Regions from separate parts of the Homo sapiens genome. Here all the other regions are linked to region 3. The links come from fine-mapping of genetic effects on gene expression. A gene starts in region 3. Each other region holds a variant in brackets. All regions are shown on one strand. Distances are from middle to middle.

Region 1 (6,636 bases), 58 kb after region 3:
GCAACCTCCCTGCCTGATTCTCCTGCCTCAGCCTGCCGAGTGCCTGCAATTGCAGGCGCGCGCCGCCACGCCTGACTGGTTTTAGTATTTCTTTGGTGGAGACGGGGTTTCACTGTGTTGGCCGGGCTAGTCTCCAGCTCCTAACCGCGAGTGATCTGCCAGCCTCGGCCTCCCGAGGTGCCGGGATTGCAGATGGAGTCTCATTCACTCAGTGCTCAATGTTGCCCAGGCTGGAGTGCAGTGGCGTGATCTCAGCTCGCTACAACCTCCACTTCCCAGCTGCCTGCCTTGGCCCCCCAAAGTGCCGAGATTGCAGCCTCTGCCCGGCTGCCACCCCGTCTGGGAAGTGAGGAGCATCTCTGCCTGGCCACCCATCGTCTGGGATGTGAGGAGCCCCTCTGCCTGGCTGCCCAGTCTGGGAAGTGAGGAGCGCCTCTTCCCAGCCGCCATCCCGTCTAGGAAGTGAGGAGCGTCTCTGCCCGGCCGCCCATTGTCTGAGATGTGGGGAGCGCCTCTGCCCCGCCGCCCAGTCTGGGATGTGAGGAGCGCCTCTGCCCAGCCACGACCCCGTCTGGGAGGTGAGGAGCGTCTCTGCCCGGCAGCCGCCCCGTCTGAGAAGTGAGGAGCCCCTCCGCCCGGCAGCCGCCCCGTCTGGGAAGTGAGGAGCGTCTCCGCCCGGCCAGCCGCCCCGTCCGGGAGGGAGGTGGGGGGCAGCCACCGCCCGGCCAGCCGCCCCGTCCGGGAGGTGGGGGGCGCCTCCGCCCGGCCGCCGCCCCATCCGGGAGGTGGGGGGCGCCTCTGCCCGGCCGCCCCTTCTGGGAAGTGAGGAGCCCCTCTGCCCCGCCGCCACCCCTTCTGGGAGGTGTACCCAACAGCTCATTGAGAACGGGCCATGATGACAATGGTGGTTTTGTCGAATAGAAAAGGGGGAAATGTGGGGAAAAGAAAGAGAGATCAGGTTGTTACTGTGTCTGTGTAGAAAGAAGTAGACATGGGAGACTCCATTTTGTTCTGTACTAAGAAAAATTCTTCTGCCTTGGGATGCTGTTGATCTATGACCTTACCCCCAACCCGGTGCTCTCTGAAACATGTGCTGTGTCCACTCAGGGTTAAATGGATTAAGGGCGGTGCAAGATGTGCTTTGTTAAACAGATGCTTGAAGGCAGCATGCTCGTTAAGAGTCATCACCACTCCCTAATCTCAAGTACCCAGGGACACAAACACTGCGGAAGACCCCAGGGTCCTCTGCCTAGGAAAACCAGAGACCTTTGTTCACTTGTTTATCTGCTGACCTTCCCTCCACTATTGTCCTATGACCCTGCCAAATCCCCCTCTGCGAGAAACACCCAAGAATGATCAATTAAAAAAAGAAAAAAAAGAAAAAGAAAAAACACCCTAGAGAAAGAACATAGCACTAGTCCCAGCATGGTGACTCATGCCTGTAATCCCACACTTTGGGAGGCTGAGGCAGGAGGGTAACTTGAGCCCAGAAGTTCAAGACCAGCCTGGGCAACATAGCAAAACCCCATCTCTATAATTTTTTTTTAAAAAATTAGCTGGGCATAATGATGAATGTCTCTAATCCTGCCTAACTGGGAGGCTGAGCCCAGGAGTTGAAGGCTGCAGTGAGCCATGATCACACCCCTGTACTCTAGCCTGGGTAACAGAGTGAAATCTCGTCTCAAAAACAAAATGAAACACAAACCACATAGCACCTTTGGCTACAGAGGATTCTATCAGATACAATACCACCGAAATAAGCAGGCAATAAAAAATTATAAAACACAAAAGGATATCCTCTAGTATGAGAATTAATAGACACAATAGGATGGCTAAAACCAAGAATTTCAGATAAAACAAAATCTAAAAAAACAATATAAAAGTAAGCCTAGGACAATTTAAAAATAAAGAGAACTGTTTAAAACTAGAGAGAAAGACTTTGAAAAAAATATTTAAAGTTACTAAAGGTATGCCTAGAAACAAATCACTGAAATTTACAATTCAATCATTTTGTAACCACCAGGTCATCAGAAGTTAGAAAAAATGGCAATAACAAGTGTTGCTAAGGATATGGAGCAATGAGAACTCACTTCACACACTCCTGGCTAGGGGTGCGATTTGGAAAAACACGCATCACCTAGTAAGTTGAAGGTGCCCATAACCTCTTATCCCCGCACAATTCTGCTTTTGTGCATTTAGATAAATACCCTAGAGACTCTTGCCCTTGTGTAGTAAGAGCTGCACAAGAATTTTTATAAAAGTGTAATCATTCAGAACTGGCTTCAGCACTAAAGAAGAAAGGTATAATCAACAAGAAATTTTAAAGAATGTAGTATAGTCACACAATGCAATACTGTATAGCAAGGGAAAAGAATAAAGATACCAATTTGGATGCATCTCAGGAATAAAAAAAAAAAAAAAGAACAAACCAAAGAAAGAGAGAGAAAGAAAAAAGAGAGAAAAAGAAAACAGAAAGAAGGAAACAGTGAGAGAGAGAAAGAGGAGAAAAAGAAGGAAAGAATGAAAGGAAGGAAGGAAAAGAAGAAAGAGAAAGAGAGAAAGAAGGAAGGAAGGGCCGGGAGCGGTGGCTCACGCCTGTAATCCCAGCACTTTGGGAGGCTGAGGCAGGCAGATCACAAGGTCAGGAGATTGAGACCACAGTGAAACCCCGTCTCTACTAAAAATACAAAAAATTAGCCGGGTGTGGTGGCTGGCGCCTGTAGTCCCAGCTACTCGGAGAGGCTGAGGCAGGAGAATGGCGTGAACCCAGGAGGTGGAGGTTGCAGGAGCCAAGATCGCGCCCCTGCACTCCGGCCTGGGCGACAGAGCGAGACTCTGTCTCAAAAAAAAAAAAGAAAAAGAAAGAAAGAAAGAAAAGAGGAAGGAAGGAAGGAAGGAAAAGAAAAGAAAGAGAAGAGCCAGGCGCAGTGGCTCACGCCTGTAATCCCAGCACTTTGGGAGGCCGAGGCGTGCGGATCACGAGGTCAAGAGATAGAGGCCATCCTGGCCAACATGGTGAAATCCTGTCTGTCACTAAAAATACAAAAATTAGCTGGACATGGTCATGTGCGCCTGTAGTCCTAGCTACTCGGGAGGCTGAGGCAGGAGAATCGCTTGAACCCGGGAGGTGGAGGTTGCAGTGGGCCAAGATCACACCACTGCACTGCAGCCTGGTGACAGAGTGAGACTCCATCTCAAAAAAAAAAAAAAAAAAAAAAGGAAAGAAAGAAAGAGAAAGAAAATAAAGAAAGAAAAAGGGAAGGAGGGAGGGAGAAGGGGAAGTCCAAGACAGGTGTGAAAACCCGAGAAGGGGTCAGTTTCCAGGTGAGGGGTCAGCCTGGGTGCAGGGGAAGAGGCACCTGCCTAGTGGGCGTAAGGAATGGAGGGCTGGTACTTTCTTCTCCATGACCCCCTTGCTCAGAACGACCTATTTTCAGCATTTTGTGCAGACTGGCTTCCATCCATGCACCTTAGGCATTGTTCTCTGATGCTATCTGAGGCACTTGTCTGTCCTTTAAAATAGTCTCTGCATTTTTCAGATGACTGCTACCCCTGGTTTGGAGTTTGCTGTGATAGAACTAAAGTAAAATTTCTTAGTGACTCCACTGTTGCCGTGCC[A/G]TCAAGCATCTGGGACTGGAAAAGCCGGGTTGCTCGGGTGGTTTGGATTCAGTGCCGCTGATCTTTTGTTTCCATGAGAACACAGAATGTGGCCAACCAGCAATCTGGTCTGACCTTGATGCCTAAATTCTAATGAAAGAGCAAGTTGAACTATAATGGTGAGAATGGAAACTAAGAACATTCTATCCAAAATGTTTGAGAAAGCCTTGTGACCAAAGGTGAGTGACTCAGAGTTTCTCTAAGACCCTGAAATGGGTGATAACGTCATGTCTAACCTTGGGAATTGGCTGAGTAAATCTCAGTACAGCTGCTCTATGGAAGGTGTGCAAACCTTGTAAGTGGTGGTTATAAAGATATGGAGCAAGTTGGAGAAATTATTTATAATAAATTATCTGGGGAAAAAAGTCAGGACTCAATATGGTGCAGGTGCGGTTGTTTCATTAAGGCAAGAAGATGCTAAGATTGCTTCTCAAACTGTCAGTGGTGATTGACCAGTTTGATTTTATAAAATTTCCAATCCATCCCAAATGTAAAGTTTTGTAAAATATCGTAAAAATAAATGATTAAATGTATATCCATCAAAGGACTTGTATCTAAAATACATAAAGAACTCTCAAAACTCAACAGAAAAAAAATCCAAATAGAACTAGAAGACACGAACAGACAGTCCACCAAAGAGGATATGTGGGTTGCAGAAAACACAGGAAAAGATGTTCAAAATCATTACCTATTAGGAAAATGAATGTCCATTTCCTGGTTTGGGTATTGTATTATTGTTATATAAGATGTCATCATTGGAAGAATCTGGGTAAACAGCTCATGGGATTTTACGTACTTTTTTCGTGATTTCCTGTGAGTCTATTATTATTTCAAAATAAAAAGTTATCAGGCCAGGCTTGGTGGCTCATGCCTGTAATCCCAGCTCTTTGGGAGGCTAAGACGGTGCAGGTGCAGATCACCTGAGGTCAGGAGTTCGAGAACAGACTAGCCAACATGGTGAAACCCCGTCTCTACTAAAAATACAAAAATTAGCTGGGCGTGGTGTTACACCCCTGTAATCCTAGCTACTCGGGAGGCTGAGGCAGGAGAATTGCTTGAACCGGGGAGGCAGAGGTTGCAGTGAGCAGAGATTGTGACACTGCACTCTAGCCTGGGTGACAGAGCGAGACTTGGTCTCAAAAAAAAATAATAAAATAAATAAATAATAAAAATGAAATGAAAAGCAGATACATGAAATACAAGCCCAACTTTTAAATCATAGATTCAACAGGCAGAAAACAACCATGTCCAATTGCTGTAAGAGTTTCTAAACATTTACTCTCATTTTCTGGGCCTGTTGTGCTGAAAAACAGTGGCGAATCTCTGGCAGACCAGCACCGGGCCGTGGACCACACTTTGAGTGGCTGTGGACCACCTGCTCAGACGAGAAGCAAATGCCAGAGATGGAATTATTTTTTTTTCCTTTTTGGCTTATTTTTTTGTTATGGAGTTATACTGCTGTTCAAAATAAAACTTGATTTAAAATATACAGAAATAATAATACAGAAGAAAATCTATTTTCCCCAAGTCTGGGTTTATGGATAAAACACACCGTCTACTCTGATGCTGCCTTCTCTTTCTCCCTCTCACCCTCCCCTAACTTCACCTCTTCCATTCCTCTCTCTCCTCCATGTGCTTGCCTTAACTGCCCTCTTTTCCTAGTGGCAGGTCCCTGGCTCTGGTCCCACCACTTTGTCACTATTCCAGACCCTCCCCGACCTATACTGGGGAAATCACTTACCTTTCTGAGCATCAGTCTCCTTATGCGGGGTGACAGTGAGACTCACCTTGGAGAGCTATCCTGTGAGGAGTGGGTGAGGTCACTCAAATGGGAGAAGCTCTGTGAACCACGTATAAGTGTGCACACGCAGAGTGGACTCTGTCTGCACACCTGGGTCCCCACATGCGCTGGCTGGCTCTGGTCAGCCTCCCAGTCTTCATTCCCATCTCACCCAACCCTCTCAGGCAAGCCAGGTGTCTCTGCTTCCAACCAAATGCCCTTCCCAGGAGGCCTCCCCAGCCCACATCCTGGCAACACTCAACCAGTGCCCCTGTCCCTCAGAGAGGGGTGTGTCCTCCCTTTCTACCTAGGAGCTCTCCCAGGCCAAGGCAGTCCTCCCCAGGGTAAAAGCCAAGTCAGGTTGCTGTATTTTTTTTCTTTGCTATAGCCTCAGGCTATGCAAACTTTTCCACCTGTTATATATAACAGGTGGAAGATATATAATAACAAATACAGTAAGTTCTCACTTAAGTTGCTGATAGACTCTTGGAAACTGCAACTTTAAGGGAAACAAAACCAATTTTACCATAGGCTAATTGATATAAATGAATAGAATTCCTGTGACATATTTCTGGTGACAAAAACATCACCAAACTTCTAAAGATCAAAACACTTCTAATATTAAACACTGAAATGAATGTAAGCTATACATACATTTAAGAAAAATTAAGAAAAACAAGATAATTAGGCCAGGTGCACTGGCTTACGCCTGTAATCCCAGCACTTTGCAAGGCCCAGGTGGGTGGATCACCTGAGGTCAGGAGTTCGAGACCGGCCTGGCCATCTTGGTGAAACCTCATCTCTACTAAAAATACAAAAGTTAGCTGACTGTGGTGGTGGGCACCTGTAATCCAGCTACTCAGGAGGCTGAGGCACAAGAATCACTTGAACCCAGGAGGTGGCGGTTGCAGTGAGCTGAGATTGTGCCACTGCACTCCAGCCTGGGTGACAGAGCGAGACACTCTCTCGAAAGAAAGAAAGAAAGAGAGAGAGAGAGAGAGAGAAAGAAAAAAGAAAGAAAGAGAAAGAAAGAAGAAAGAAAGAAAAACAAGATAATTATTTACCCAATTATTCCAGTTCAGGGTCGTGGGTGGCTGGAGCCCATCCTGGCAGCTCAGGATGCCAGGTGGGAACCTACCCTGGACAGGACATGGTGCTCACACACCCACACTCACTCGTGCTGGGACCATGCAGACTCA
Region 2 (7,579 bases), 74 kb before region 3:
GGGAGGCAGGAGGATCGCTTGAACCTAGGAGTTCGAGACCAACCTGGGCAACATAGTGAGATCCCATCTCCACAAAAAATAAGAAAATTAGCCAGGCATGGAAGCACACGTCTGTAGTCCCAGCTACTTGGGAGGCTGAGGCAGAAGGGTCAATTGAGCCCAGGAGATTGAGGCTGCAGTGAGCCGTGATTGTGCCACTGCACTCCAGCCTGGGCGACAGAGCACGACGCTGTCTCAAAAACAAAAAAACAAACAACAACAACAAAAAGCCAAAACAACAACCAAAAAAAAAATCAAATTGACTTAGGACCTGATTTTAGAGCTGGAAGAAACCAAATCCTCTCAATTAACACATGAGAAAACAAAGGCAGAGAAGGTGGGAGGGGGGCTGTTCTGACCACGGTCACACAGCTCATTAGGAAATGGATGCTGACGGGTACCCCAGCCAGTGGGGCTCCCAGCGCTGAGTGGAGCCCTGGTTCACCCAGAAGCCTGTGGACATCCCTGCTCAGGTTTCTCCCTTCCACCCGATCCTCCTCCTCCTCCTTCTGCTTGGTATCCTGACTTCTCAACTTTGAAACACTTCCATACATCCACGATCTCATTTAACCCCCTCCAATGACCCCGTGACAATGAAATTATTATCATCTCCACTTTACCGATGAAAGAACGGAGCTCTTGGAGGCCAGAGAAGCCCTCCCAGAGGCAACCCATGGTGGGCGAGGAAGGGCCGGGACTCTCAGGAGTGAGAAAGGCAGAGCATCCCTGGTGCTCACCACAGCCCCTACCTCAGGCATGCGTGGGTGGCTCTCTGCAAGCCTGAACAATCTTCATGGCCCTGGATTTAGGCAGCTCTTGCCTTTTTACAAATTACAGCTGGATTGAGCTTCGGAGCCATCCCCCAGCTGCAAAGCCCCCAGGGGCTGTGCCGGTGGGATAGGAGGCTGGAGCTGACAGACTGCTGTCTACCTCACAAGCTGCTCACCCTTCCCCAGCCGTAGATCCCTCAATACTTTTCATATATTATTGATGGCTCCTTAATTGGGGATTCTAAAAGCCTCGCTGCAGAGCCCAGCCCTGGCCCCTCATGAATCATGTTCACTAGGATTAAAATTAGAGGCCAGAAAGCTACCTGACTCAAATAGAAACGGAAAAAGGGAATGTGCTTTCCAAGGCTGGCCCTGGGAATAGGAGCCAGGTGGGGGCGCCCAGTGGCTGGGAAGAGTGGCCTGAGATCTGGGGACAGGAAAGGAGGGCCTGGGGAGGCGGAGGAGCACGGAGGATCTGGCCATGCCAGGCCTGCACCATCTTGGGTCTGGAAAGTTCTCTCTGGTTCTGTCACTGAAGGAGTCCAGAATTCTGTGGCCACCCCTCCTCGTTGCAGTGAGGAAAACCAGGCCCAGAGAGAGATGGGGCTTGCCTAAAATTACAGGGAGTGAGCCATGACCTTGGCACCTTTCGTTTCGTAGGCCTGGTGACCTCCCAAATGGCTGCCTGTTTTGTTAAGGCTTCCAGGTAAGGCAGGGCAGAGGTGGAGACAGGGGCCCTGAGTTAGGGAAGCCCAGGCTCTAAAGGCCTCCCTGTTCTCAAGCCTGGTCAGAGAAGCCTCCCTATCTCGCCCAGAGACCAGGGTCAGGGTATGAAACTTTACCAAGCTTAGAATGAAAGACTTCCTGCCAAAAAGCTTAGTTCCTAATTAGCCATTGTTTCAGATAATCTGTTCAATCATCCCAGCTCCTCGGGGAACGGGGAACGACCCTTTACCAATGAGCCTGGCTGCCAAGCTGCCAACAAAACACTCTCCACCACCTTGTCCCCACCCCCAGCCTTCTAGCCCCGGGTCTGACTGTAGAGGGTGGGGGGCCTGAGCAGTCCCCACCCTAAAGGAAGCCAAGCATCATGGAGGGGGCCCTGGGACTTGTCCCCCAGCTCACTCCAAAACATCGATAGCTCCTGCCAAATGGCATCACGATGTCTGAAATGATACTGTCAATGGTTCCTTCCTCCAGATAAAGCATTGGTTTCTTACTTAGGGCTTCTTATAAGAAGAGCCATTATTGAGCTTTTTCTGCAGGCCAGGCACTTTACACGAATTAGCTTATTTACTCCTCACAGTAGGCTTGTGAGCCTAAGTGCTTGGCCAAGATCCCCCACCTGGGCAGGTGGTGGGCCCATTTTTAAACTTGACTTTGGAGTGCACACTTTCAACAGCTCAGCCACAACTGTAGAGTGCACCTGGACACTAACACTGAAAAGCAAATAGATCTATCAGCCACCAGGGGACCTGGCCTAGAACTCAGGGTTTATTAGAAAAGCCAACTCCTTTCTTCAAATGAAATCTCAGGCTCATGTCTAATGTATTACACAGAAATAATGAACACCTCTGCTTGAAGGAGGAAAGGGAGGCAGGGGCTACACACATATTCACGGTGGATCCTGGAGCTGCCACCCTCAAATCCTGGGGATAGAAAAGCACACTTTGGGCTGGGCGCAGTGGCTCATGACTGTAATCCCAGCACTTTGGGAGGCCGAGGTGGGCGGATCTCCTGAGCTCAGGAATTTGAGACCAGCCTGGCCAACATGGTGAAACCCCATCTCTACGAAAAATACAAAAATTAGCTGGGGGTGGTGGCATATGCCTGTAATCCTAGTTACTCGGGAGGCTGAGGCAGGAGAATTGCTTGGACCCAGGAGGTGGAGGTTGCAGTGAGCCGAGATTGTGTCACCACACTCCAGCCTGGGCGACAGAGTGAGACTCCGTCTCAAAAACAAACAAACAAGAAAAGCCCACTTTGAAAGTCAGTGGCCTGGGCAGAGGAGAAGACCAGGGACTCCGACTCGGAAAACCACATTCACATCCCAGCTCTGCCACTTCCTAGCTGTGTTGCTGGGCAAAGCCAGGATCCCTCTGAGCTCTGCTTCCTCATCTGGGTGTGGTGAGGGCCAAGGGAGATAATGGGGTGCTGCTGATGTGGAGACTGTACAGGGTAGAAGGCATATCAGTCACCCTCTTATTTAAGGAGGGG[A/C]AGGAAAGGGATAGAGCCTCTTTACAGCTTGCCTGATGGTACTGTTTAATAATAAAAAGAATATTTACAGGTCCTGAGCACAGGCAGGCACTGCTAAGTGATTCTGCCATGTGGTCCCTACCACAGTCCACTAAGCAGGCATTGGGAACCCATTTTATTGATGAAAAAAACTAAGGCTCAGAGAGAGGTTAAGGAAAGTGGCAAAGTCAGGATTCAAAGGGACATCCCAGACAGCACCTCACTGTGTCAAAGCAGGTTTTAAAGCCCTGACCCTAAGACTGTGAGTAGGTGGCCATAGACCCATCTAGTCCCTAAAGTAAAGCTTTGGTCCTGGACTGCCTAACCCTGATCACGGGGAGTCAGAGCCCTGAAAATTCAGCTGCATGACAAGAGCAAAGGCCACTAAAGGCTTTCCAAGTGACCTAAGGCTCAGGAGGGACCTCTCTTTGCAGAGGCAGACTTCTCTGCAAAAAGGAGAGAGTCCAGAAAGCCTACCCCAAGCTTGCCTTGGAGTCCACCTCTTAGAGAGGCCTGCCTTCCGCTTTGTGCCTTAGCAATGCTGATGGTCCACTCATTCCTTTGTATCTTTAGATAATGGTCTATGTGGAATGACCAAGGCCAGGTCACCAGGGATCCTAAATTGGGCTCAAGGCCAGGCAGGCAGAGGGTTATTTCTTTTCAGATTTAAACTCTTGGCATTGAACGAACTGGATCCCCTGTGTTCATGCCCACCACAGTCTTATTCCAAAACCTCCACAAGACTGCAAATTATCTTCCTGCTTCTGCCCTTTCCCCTGCAGTCCACTCTGCACACAGTGGCCAGGGCTGTCTTTCTGAAACATAAACCAGGTTGCATCACTCCCCTGCTTAAAACCCTTAAATAGGCCAGGTGTGGTGGCCCACGCCTGTAATCCCAGCATTTTGGGAGGTTTAGGAGGGAGGATCACCTGAGGTCAGGAGTTCAAGACCAGCCTGCTCAACATGGTGAAACTCTGCCTCTACTAAAAATACAAAAATTAGCCAGGCATGGTGGCGCATGCCTGTAGTCCCAGCTACTTGGGAGGGTGAGGCAGGAGAATCACTTGAACCCGGGAGGCAGAGGTTTCAGTGAGCTGAGATCGAGCCATTGCACTCCAGCCTGGGCAATGGAGCAAGACTCCATCTCAAACAAAACAAAATAAAACCCTCAAGTAGCTTAGCATCACACTTAGATCAGTATCAGAACTCTTTATATGGCCTCTGAAGCCCTACAGGATCTGAACCTGATGACCTCTGTGACCGTATTGTCCACTTTCTTAATTGTTCACACCACTCAAACTACACCAGCCTTCTTTTTGTCCTTGAAATACAGTAAGCTTGTTCCCACCTCAGGGCCTTTGCACTTGCTGTTCCCTCCACCTGCAACACCCTGCCCCCCAGAATGATGCATGGCACCACTCAAGACTCAGCTCCAGTGCCACCAAGTTTGGCTTGGTTCACAGGATCTCCAAGGGCGGCCTCTCCCACTGTGATGGAGTGCCCAGGTCAATGGTAGATTGCGGTTAATATTTCCAGGCATTTTCATAAGCATTACCTTAGTTAGTCTACCCACAAAGGTCTCTTAGCCCCTTTTTATCGATTAGTAAGCTGAGACTTGAGAAGATAAATAACTCACCTAGGTCATACAGTTAGTAAATATCAGAGCTGGTATGAAAACCCAGAGTTTTGGACATCAAGTTCAGGCCTCATCTGACAAATGCATTTGACTGTTATTCATGATGTCTTTAGGGACCAGATGGGAAAATATAGCACATAGGTGGCTGAACGGCCTACCCCAAAGGTCAATTAAAAAACTGAAGTCAATCTGGGAAAAGATCTCTAGTGGAGGAACGCAGTACTCCATCCCATTCAATTCCTTGTCACCTGTGTCGGTGAGGACTACAGCTGACCCAGGACCAAGAGGCATAACCAAGATGCTGAATGCAAGATCGTAATTCAACATGGTCTCCATAAACTGTAACAACGGACTGAATCCAACAAACGACACATGATGGCAATAAATGTGAAATCACAGATTTAGGTTCAAAAACTCATTGCCAACTCTGAGGTAGGGAAATTGGCAAAGCTATTTGGACAGCAACTCATGGAGAAAGACACAGAAGTCCCCAAACTCAGTACGAATTAAGTCAAAAACACCTGCCAAAAGATCAGTGGCATATTAGATAGTGTCGCTAGATGTGTAATCCTCAGAAGCAGACACAGAATGCAGAGGCCAGCAGGGAGGAGCGTGATGATCTAAGGCAAGCCCCTGTGTGGAGGAAGCCAGCCCATGATGCTCTGGGCTGCAGAAGGGGATGGCGGGGACACATGCTGTCCAGGAGGGTGCTCAGGTTGGTAAAGGGACAGAAAACAGTGATATGAAAAGCTTCAGTTTCCTCCTCTGTCAAATGGGGCCAATAATAATAATAATACCTCCTTCATAGGATTGTTGTGAGGATTCATTGAGTTAATGCAGGTAAAGTACTTAGAACAGTGTCTATGGCCAGGTGCGGTGGCTCACGCCTGTATTCCCAGCACTTTGGGAGGCCAAGGCAGGTGGATCACTGGAGGTCAGGAGTTCAAGACCAGCCTGAAACCAACCCCATCTCTACTAAAAATAGAAAATTAGTCGGGCGTGGTGGTGCACGCCTGTAATCCCAGCTACTCAGGAGGCTGAGGCAGGAGAATCACTTGAACCCGGGAGGTGGAGTTTGCAGTGAGCAGTGATCGTGCCATTGTACTCCAGCCTGGGCGACATAGCAAGACTCTGTCTCAAAAAAAAAAAAAAGAACAAAAAAAAAGAACAGAACAGTGTCTGCACATTGCTGTCATGTGTTTGCCATTATCATTACTGTGATTGGTGTCATCTCCCTGGGTTGAAAGTGAGCTCCTCTGGTTGTAGGCAGTGTCTGGTCCCCCTTTGCACCCCCAGCATTCATCCCCCAGCACATAGTAGGTGCCTGCTGTAGTCTGAATGTTTGTGTCCCTCTGAAATTCACGTTGAAATTCTTATTTCATTGTGATGCTATTCAGAGGTGAGGCTTTGGGGAGGTGATTAGGTCAGGAGGGCAGAGCCCTCATGAATGGGCTTAGAGTGTGTTCATCCCTCCCACCATGTGAGGACACAGCAAGATGGAACTGGCCCTCACCAGACATTGAATTTGCTGGTGCCTTGATATTGGACTTCCTGGCCTCCAGAACTGTGTAAATAAATTTCTGTTGGTTATAAGCTACCCAGTTTATGGTATTTTTGTTATAGCAACCTGAACAGACTAAGACAGTGCCCAACACATGCTCACAGAGGTTATGTGAAGACACATGTCAAGTTGCCCCGAGGAAGATCATTCAGAATATTTAGAGATGAACCATCAATTTCAGCTGCTGGTGAAAAGTTTAACAGGCTAATTCTCCTCAAAAAAGAGACTGAGTGCTTTGGCAGGGACATGTGGGTGTGGTGGCTGGGGCCAATGACTGCAGTGGTATGGGGCGATCTGCTGGACACCCTAAGATTCTGTGATTCCCATTTCTTTTCCAAGAGGCCCTCAGCCAAGACAGCTGCCTGGTGAGGGAGGGGCAGGGATCTCCATACCCACTTTTCAAATGGGAAACCTAGAGGGGTTCCCTATCATGTCCCTCTTCCCAGTGGAAGCATTTCTGGGACTCTTCCCACCTGGCCATCCTGCCTTAGTTAGTCTACCCACGAAGGTCTCTTAGCCCCATTTTATAGATTAGTAAGCTGAGACTTGAGAAGATAAATAACTCACCTAGGTCACACAGTCAGTAAATATCAGAGCTGGTCTGAAAACCCAGGGTTTTGGACATCAAGTTCAGGCCTCATCTGACAAATGCATTTGACTGGACATGCAGAAGGCCCTGGCAGGACTTGATGCAAACAGTGCTTGATTTTCTGGGCTAAAATTACATCTTGAGTCAATTTTCATGAAATGTGGTGACAGATTTAGGTGCTGGGAAGATGGAGCTTTCTCAGAAGGCATAAAAATGACCCAAATGGTTAAAACCAGCTGAAAGCCGGCAGCCAGGGGCCACGAGAGCAGATTTCATCCCTCCCAGGATTGGCTCATCTGCAGCCTCATGCAAACCCCACGTACAGAGAAAGTGCTGTGCCTGCACTTGACTTCCCCTGACCACAGGATTATTATTTCTCGGACAAGATTCTGGTAACAGAGAGGTGATTTGTTCCTGAAGGGCAATGAACTAGATGGAGGAGTGGTGGGAACTGGTTCCTGTTTACTTGCAAGGGCAGTCTTCTATCCCAGAGGCGGTTCCATAGAGACAATCTGGATTTTTCTTTAATTCTCCATTCCTGATACTTTCCTCTGTGGGTCGCACAGAGAATCGAGCAAGGAATTACAGCCCCTCTCCCGTCCCCAGTATGTTTGTTTGTTTGCTTTCGAGACAGGGTCTCATTCTGTTGCCCAGGCTGGAGAGCAGTGGCACAATCTAGGATCACTGCAACCTCTGTCTCCTGGGTTCAAGCGATTCTCCTGCCTCAGCCTCCCAAGTATCTGGGACCA
Region 3 (7,579 bases):
GCCTCAGCCTCCCGAGTAGCTGGGACTACAGGCGCCCGCCACCGCGCCTGGCTAATTTTTTTTGTATTTTTAGTAGAGACGGGGTTTCACCTTGTTAGCCAGGATGGTCTCGATCTCCTGACCTCATGATCCACCCGCCTCGGCCTCCCAAAGTGCTGGGATTACAGGCGTGAGCCACCGCGCCCGGCCTGAATTGTCATTTTCAATGCATGTTTTCTGGTTGTATAAAAGCTTTCCCATGCAATAGGGCTGATGTTATAACAGTAGATTATAGTGTATTTTCACCAGACAAAGAAAACTTTTTATGATTCACTGAGGACAATCCCTTCACAATCTAGAACCTGCAGATTGGATCGTCTGAGAACACCAGAGAAAGAGAAAGACTGTCCTTGCCATCCACACTACAGCAAAACTTTGGAGCTTTAAACCTTGGGTTCATAATCTCACAGCTGAGAAGGGTCCCTCCACACTCCTGGAACTGTACATCCATTGGAACCCTTAAGGTAAAACTAACCAGAAAAGTTTCTCCCCAGAAGATGGCATCCTTGATTAGAATAGCTTTTCCCAAGATCATAGATCAAAACTTCTACTATCACAAGACTCTTATCTTTGAATATTTTTTCCTTGTTTATGCCTCTATGAACAATAGAAATTAAAAGTGGGTCTATTATATGCACTTATAGGGTATACTTTTATTTGTGAAGGATTTTGCAGCCAGCCTTAAACATGAATAACCTTATATTTCAATAGATAAAAGATGAAGGCCCAATGTAGGTAACAAACTTTAGTGGTACATACATTGCCTCATAATCAGTCAAAACTCCTCTTAACCCACATCATGGATTAAAGAGAACATTGACAAGAGGCCTTCACTCTTCTAGAAAGACATCCATTTGTTAGGTCCTTTTTCCATGGTTTAGAATAAAAGAGGCAATAATTTGAAATGTCTCCCTCATAATAGGCTCTACAGCAAATTCTACTTTAAAGGCTATCGTTACACAACAGACTTTAAATTCTCCTTTGAAAATTATACTAAGTAATAGAATTGGCTAAACAGAAAAGTACCTGTGCAGCTGTTGACACCTGTGGCCTATGGAGAAATACAGCAAATGTAAATTATAAACAATTCTGGCCGGGCGTGATGGCTGACACCCGTAACCTCAGCACTTTGGGAGGCAGAGGTAGGCGGATCCCCTGAGGTCAGGAGTTTGAGAGCAGCCTGGCCAACATGGCAAAACCCTGTCTCTACTAAAAATATGAAAATTAGCCTGGCGTGGTGGCAGGTGCCTGTAATCTCAGCTACTCAATAGGCTGAGGCGGGAGAGTCACTTGAACCTAGGAGGTGGAGGTTGTAGTGAGCTGAGATCGCCGCTGCATTCCAGCCTTGGTGACAGAGCAAGACTCCCTCTCACAAAATAAATACAATAAAAATAAATATCCAGTTGTAGGGGATTAGTGAAAAGACCACTTAGTCAAGCAAGGAGACTCTTCATCTAACTCATTCTTCAATCTATTTAATTTTAGGTGGTTTGGCTTATGGGGACCCTGGGTAAGGAGCATACTCCAAACTCTTGCTATTATCCGCCCGATAATGATAATAATAGTCTCCCTGGTGCACTGTATTCTCTCAAAGATTTTAAATGCTTGCATGCAGCCATCTCTACAACGTCAAATGATCTCTTTTCAACTGGAATAACAAAAACTGAAAGAAATGTGTGACCATGAAGGCACCGTAACCTATGAATGACATGCTGAGACCAGAAACCCAAAATGATGTAACTGAGAGTGGCGCTAAGGCCCTAAGTTCTGGTCACGCTGTCACCTAAGTAAGAACCTGGCCAAAAGTGAGGAATTTTTTTTTAAACAAAATCATGGGAGGCCATTATTTTGGACTGAGCTCATGCACTAGGCACCAACAAACCAAACCAAACTAAAATGGAGTCACTCATGCTAAATGTGACATAATCAAACCAAGGCTTTAAAAAAACACAAAATGCTAGAACAGACCAGGTTTTTTCTCCTGTAAACAGATGTTTCAGAATAAGGAGGTATCCTCTACTCAGCCCTTATTCTCTTCCTGCAAAACCCACTGTTCTACTGTTTCCTAGTGAGTTTCAAAACCATACAGGTACACTTATGACAGCGATAATAACATCAATGACCAAGGTTTTGGTCAATCTCTCAAAATTGAGAAAATGACCAAAACGGGGGAATTGTTAAGGCAAACTAAATATGGCCTGAGAAGGACTCTGTCCTTCTATATTTGAGTCCTTGTGGATGAACTGTAACATAGCTTAATAGTCAAACAAAATTGAAAACCTAACTTAATAGTATACACCTGTAACAATAACTGAGTGGTGGCCAATCCCAGCGGCCATACTTCAACCACTCACAGCCTGCTGAATGTTCAATCTGCGTTCAAATCAGGCAAACACCGAGCTGTAACCAACCTCACTGTTTCTGTACCTTACTTCCGATTCCTGTGCCTCACTTTGCCTTTTTTATCTATAAATTTGTTCTGACCATGAGGCACCCTGGGAGTCTGTGAATCTGCTGTGATTCTGGGGGTTGCCTGATTCGTGAATCTTCCATTGCTCAATTAAACTCCTTTATACTTAATTCGGCTTAAGTTTTTCTTTTATCAACAGAGTAAGCTCTCACTAATGAGTGGGCTGAGTGAAAACTGGAGGGATTTGTTCGTCTTTCTCAAGAGTAGTAGCTTCCAGAAGGAAGGGGCTGCTCTTCATTTACATTTCCCTTCCACTCCCATCCCTTAATGCCTAACATGCTGCCTGGCACATAGTAGGGGACTCAGTAAATGCTTGTTCTATGGATCAGTTCAGCTATGAAGTCTGTGTGAGCCAGTCCAGGTAAATTAGGAAGACAAGGATTTAGGACTGGGGCGAAAAGAGCCAGAACGGAAGAAGGACGCCAGGGGGAGCAAGAACCTACACTCTCCAGATATCGCGAGAGGTCCCGCGCTCGCCACGACACTGAGTGTTCTGTTTTGGGCGGAAGCGCTGGACGAGAGGAGGAATTACTCTAGGGTACAAGGCCTCGCCCAGGAGTGGGGGGTTGCTTCCGGGTCGCGCTCCCGGAAACAGGAAGTTGCCCATCCTCCTCGCCCGGCGGCAGCTGTCCCCGAGGCGGGAGGAGCCCGAGGGGCGCGAGCCCCGCATGTGAGTGACTGGGGCCCGAGGCTGGGTGGGGGGAGGCCGCCCTGTGACAGCCTCGCCGCGCCCGTCTCTGACATCCTCGCGCAGCCGCTTCTCGCCGCTGCTACCACCCTCTATCCCAGCGCGGATCCCTTTTCTCAGTCTCTCCAGTTTTGTAGACTGACAGCATCCCCTGGCAGCTCCCCCGGGGTCGACTCCCTTAAGACATCTGTCACTTTCTTTGACTCCGCCGGGGAGAGCAAAACGAGGTGGACCTTGCTTGAACTTGGTTCTCAGGCATCACAGCAGTGTCCATAACTTGAGCGTTGCTAATGAAGTCCAGATTTCTGCCCTTTTGACGGAATTTTTAAGAAATTAAGAGTAGATTCCCCACCCCCTTCTGAAAGATCTTTTTCTAATAATCGTTAGGGGGCAATAATTTTTTTTCTTTAAATGTGTACTTGGTATGTGATAAACCTGGCATCTTGGATTTCAGAAAGAAATATGACTTGGTTTCTTGACACAAGTAAAATAGTTGTTTGTAATCACCTCTTAGTAGAAGGAAATTTGCCTGCGTCGTGTTTTGTAGTATTTTAAGACTGTTAACCGTGCAGGCCACACTTTCTAGTCTCAGAGCCCTCATAGCCTTTGTATTCGCAAATATGTTTCTTTTAAAGTATTTAGTCATAAATCACTTTATAATAGAGACTACTTCCAGATACTTAGTATTCTGACTTTTCTGATGGCTCATTTGGTAGTTCCTGTGGTGGGATCTTCTATAGACGTCTCTCCCTTAATAAATTCGTTCATTTGAATTTGGGTTGTCAAAATTTCCCTCTAGGGAATAACATGCCTTTAAAATAATAACTAATAAATTCAATTCTGCTACATTGAAGTTTTGACTAAAGGTTCATGTAGCCCAACTTGCATACCAGAAAGAGGTCCTGTTTCTGTCAGACCTTTTCTGCCTTGGACTGAGGCATTTTTCAAGACCTGCTTTGAATACCTGTTCCTCCACAGCTACTCCACACACCAGAAACAATGTCCAAATGCTAGATTCCTAACCTGCTAACCTTAAACCCTCATCACATTGTTGCTACCTCTGCGTTTTTTTGTTTTTTTTTTTTTGAGACGGAGTCTCACACTGTCGCCCAGGCTGGAGTGCAGTGGCGTGATCTCTGCTCACTGCAAGCTCCGCCTCCCCGGTTCACACCATTCTCCTGCCTCAGGCTCCCGACCTCTGCATTTTTAAAAATGAATAAAATAATAAAACATAAAATGAATAAACCATGAGCCACGAGTTACATTCAATTAGTTCGGAATGATAATTTTAGGTCCTTTCTATAAATTTGTTCAACATTGATCTGATTCCACATCTGAGGTGAATTCCCACGTCTGTTCTTAGTTTTTTGTGTTTTCTCCATTTATCTCTGCTTTCAAGAAACACTATTTAGGGTGGGAGGTAGACAGGAAAATAGATGTAATGCCAAGCCCTAGAGGTGCATAGGACAAAAACTGAGGTCAGAGTCTTAAAGAGTTCACTTATTGGACAAAGCACTGGAGACTAGGCTTTTTAGGCAGAGGAAATTGTGTATGCAAAAGCAAAAAGATGTGAAATAGTATGACAGTGTAGAATGTGAAGAAGGATTGATGGGAAATGAAACTGAACAGGTAGGCAGTGACCAGATCATAAAGGGCCATGGTAAGTAATTTGGACTTTATCTTTTAAAAAAGACAGGAATCTCATTCCATCACCCAGGTTGGAGTACAGTGGTGCTATTACGGTTCACTGCAGCCTCGAACTCCTGGGCTCAAGCTACCCCTCACCTCTGCTTCCCAAGTAGCTGGGACTACAGGCAGGCACCACCACACTCGGCCAATTTTTATTTTTATTTTTTTTGTAGATACAGGGTCTTGCTATGTTACCCAGGCTGGTCTTGGAAGTCCTGGGCTCAAGCAGTCCTCCCACCTCAGCCTCCCAGTGTTGGGATTACAGGCATGAACCACCATGCTTGACTTAGGACTTTATCTTAAAATGATTGTTATTAGGTATTTAATTTGTCTGGCTATTGGAACAAATGTGTTACATCATTTTATAATTCTCTGAAATAAAACATTGTGGGGTAGAAATAATTATCCCCATTTTATACATGAAAACTGAGGCTTAGAGAGGATGAGTAGTGTCTCATGGCCACACAGTAAGTGGTAAAATCTAGAATTTGCATCCAGCTTTTTCCAACTCCAGTATCTGTGTTCTTAGTCACCATGCTAAACTGCTCCTGCAGAGGATGGGGAGTCTTGGAAGGTGCTTAGCATGAGCCAATTTGTGTTTCAAAAAAATAAGTGGCCGAGTGCAGCGGCTCACGCTTGTAATCCTAGCACTTTGGGAGGCTAAGGTGGGTGGATCACTTGAGGTCAGGAGTTCAAGACCAGCCTGGCCAACATGGTGAAACCCATTTTTTACCAGAAAAATACAAAAATTAGCTGAGTGTGGTGGCGCGTGCCTGTACTCCCAGCTACTCCAGAGGCTGAGGCACGAGAATCTCTTGAAGCCAGGAGACAGAGGTTGCAGTGAGCTGAGATCATGTCACTGCACTCCAGCCTGAGCGAAGAGTGAGACCCTGTCTCAGAAAATAAAAATAAAAAACTGGACAAGGTAGAGAATGGATTGGGGAAGAGGAGAACTGGAAGTATAGAGATTAACTACATCTTTGTGATGGTCCATAGGAGAGATGTTGAAGACCTTAACTGTGCTGTTAATGTAGAGAGGAAGGGATGAATGTGAGAATTATATAGGAGGCTGAATCAAGAGGACTTAGTGATAGTTTCATTGGTGGGAGTGAGGTAGGAGGAGAATAGTTTTTAAATTTGGAGGATTAGTGTTTCCATTAAGAAAAGAGGTGCAGTGGGAGGAATGAGTTGAAGGGGAAAACAGTAAGTTGGGTTATAGACACATTACATACAGGGAGCTATGGGAAACTTGGATCACCGTGTCTGGTAGGCAGGTAGATAAATGGGTCTTGAACCCTAGAGAGAGTTGTAGACTGGAGAAGAGATTTGGGAATCACCAATAGCTGGTGGTCAAAGTGTTGGAGGGAATAAGAAGGTCAAGGATAACTGGTGGATACCAGCAGAGAACGAGAGAATTATGTTAAGGTTTGAGTACACTTGAGGGAGATAGATAATGGGGTAGCAACAGCAGCTGCTGCAGAGAGGTCAGATAAGGTAATAACTGAAAAAAACGTCCTTCGAACTTGGCGTTTAGAAAGCCATTTGTGGCCTCAGTGAAAGCAATGTCGGTGGAGTGAGGAGGCAGAAATATGATTTCAACAGGTTAATAAATGAATGGAAACCTGAGAAACAAGAAAGTGTGTTACTTTCTCCCCCCAACCCCCAAAGGAGCTTTCCTCTGAAGGGAGGGAGGGAGAGAGTACCAGAAACTTAGAAAGGAACTATTATGGCATTTTTCTGATAGTAGAAACTGGAAAGGGTGAGGATGGAAGCAAGTAGAGGTAAGCTTAAAAATGTGAAGACTTCTTCAAGTATGTCAATGTCCTAAAAGACCAAAAAACAAAAACAAAAAAAAAAAGAAAAACCACACACTGGGGACTTGTTCTGAAGTTAAGTAGATTAAAGAGAGGCATGGCAGCCAAATTCAATGTGTGGTCATTGGTTGGATCCTGGATTTTTAAATAGCTATATGATCTTTTTAAAAAAATTTGATAGTTAAGGAAACTTGACTATAGACTGAATATTAGGTAATATTAAGAGATTACTCATTTTAATGGGTATGGCAATAATGCCAATGGTTGTGTGTAGAATAACGTCGTTATTCTTAGGAGATGCATGTTGAAATATTTAGAAATGATTTTATAATGTGTTGCAAATAACTTTCAAGTAGTTCTGGTAAAAACAGAAAGAAAATATAGCCAAATGTAAACAACTGGTAAATCTAAATGAAGGATATCCAGGTGTTCATTGTACTATTTTTGTACAAAAAGCTTTACACATTTAATGTGTACAGCTTGATGAATTTGGACATAAGTATGCCCTTGTGAAACCATCACCATGATCCATGCCATCAACCTATCCATCACCTTCAAGTTTCCTCCTGCCTTCTTACTTATTATTACTATTAGCAATAAGAACACTTAACATAAGACCTACCTTCTTAGCATATTTTTAAATATACAATACAGTATTGTTAACTCTGGGCACTGTGCTGTATAGTAGGTCTCTAGGAGTTATTCATCTTGTATAACTGAAACTTTGTATTCTTTGCCCAGTACCTCCCTGTTTCCCCCTGCCTGCAGCCTCCTGCAACCACCATTCTGTTCTTTGCTTCTATGAGTTTAGCTATTTTAGATTAATCGCACAAGTGGTATCATGTAGTATTTATCTTTCTGTGTCTGGCTTATTTCACT

What was found. PIP is the estimated chance that this variant, and not a neighbour inherited with it, causes the effect. A credible set is the group of variants that fine-mapping cannot tell apart.
Region 1: its variant is the best candidate, but not a certain one, in a credible set for the expression of C6orf89 in adrenal gland (GTEx, PIP 0.81).
Region 2: its variant is the best candidate, but not a certain one, in a credible set for the expression of C6orf89 in atrial appendage (GTEx, PIP 0.57).

The regions. Positions count from the first base shown.
Region 1 is chr6:36,941,109-36,947,744 of GRCh38, forward strand. No RefSeq gene overlaps it. Among named protein-coding and RNA genes, the nearest start is that of PI16, 10 kb to the right of the region's middle. The variant A/G (reference allele first, on the strand shown) is at 3,619.
Region 2 is chr6:36,809,340-36,816,918 of GRCh38, forward strand. All of the region lies in intron 3 of CPNE5 (copine 5), which reads right to left. Among named protein-coding and RNA genes, the nearest start is that of CPNE5, 26 kb to the right of the region's middle. RefSeq lists a silencer at 1,685-1,853. The variant A/C (reference allele first, on the strand shown) is at 3,027.
Region 3 is chr6:36,882,850-36,890,428 of GRCh38, forward strand. C6orf89 (chromosome 6 open reading frame 89) reads left to right here and starts at 3,103. Exons shown (of 9, transcript NM_001286635.2): 1 at 3,103-3,179. RefSeq lists an enhancer at 2,863-2,942 and a silencer at 3,163-3,342.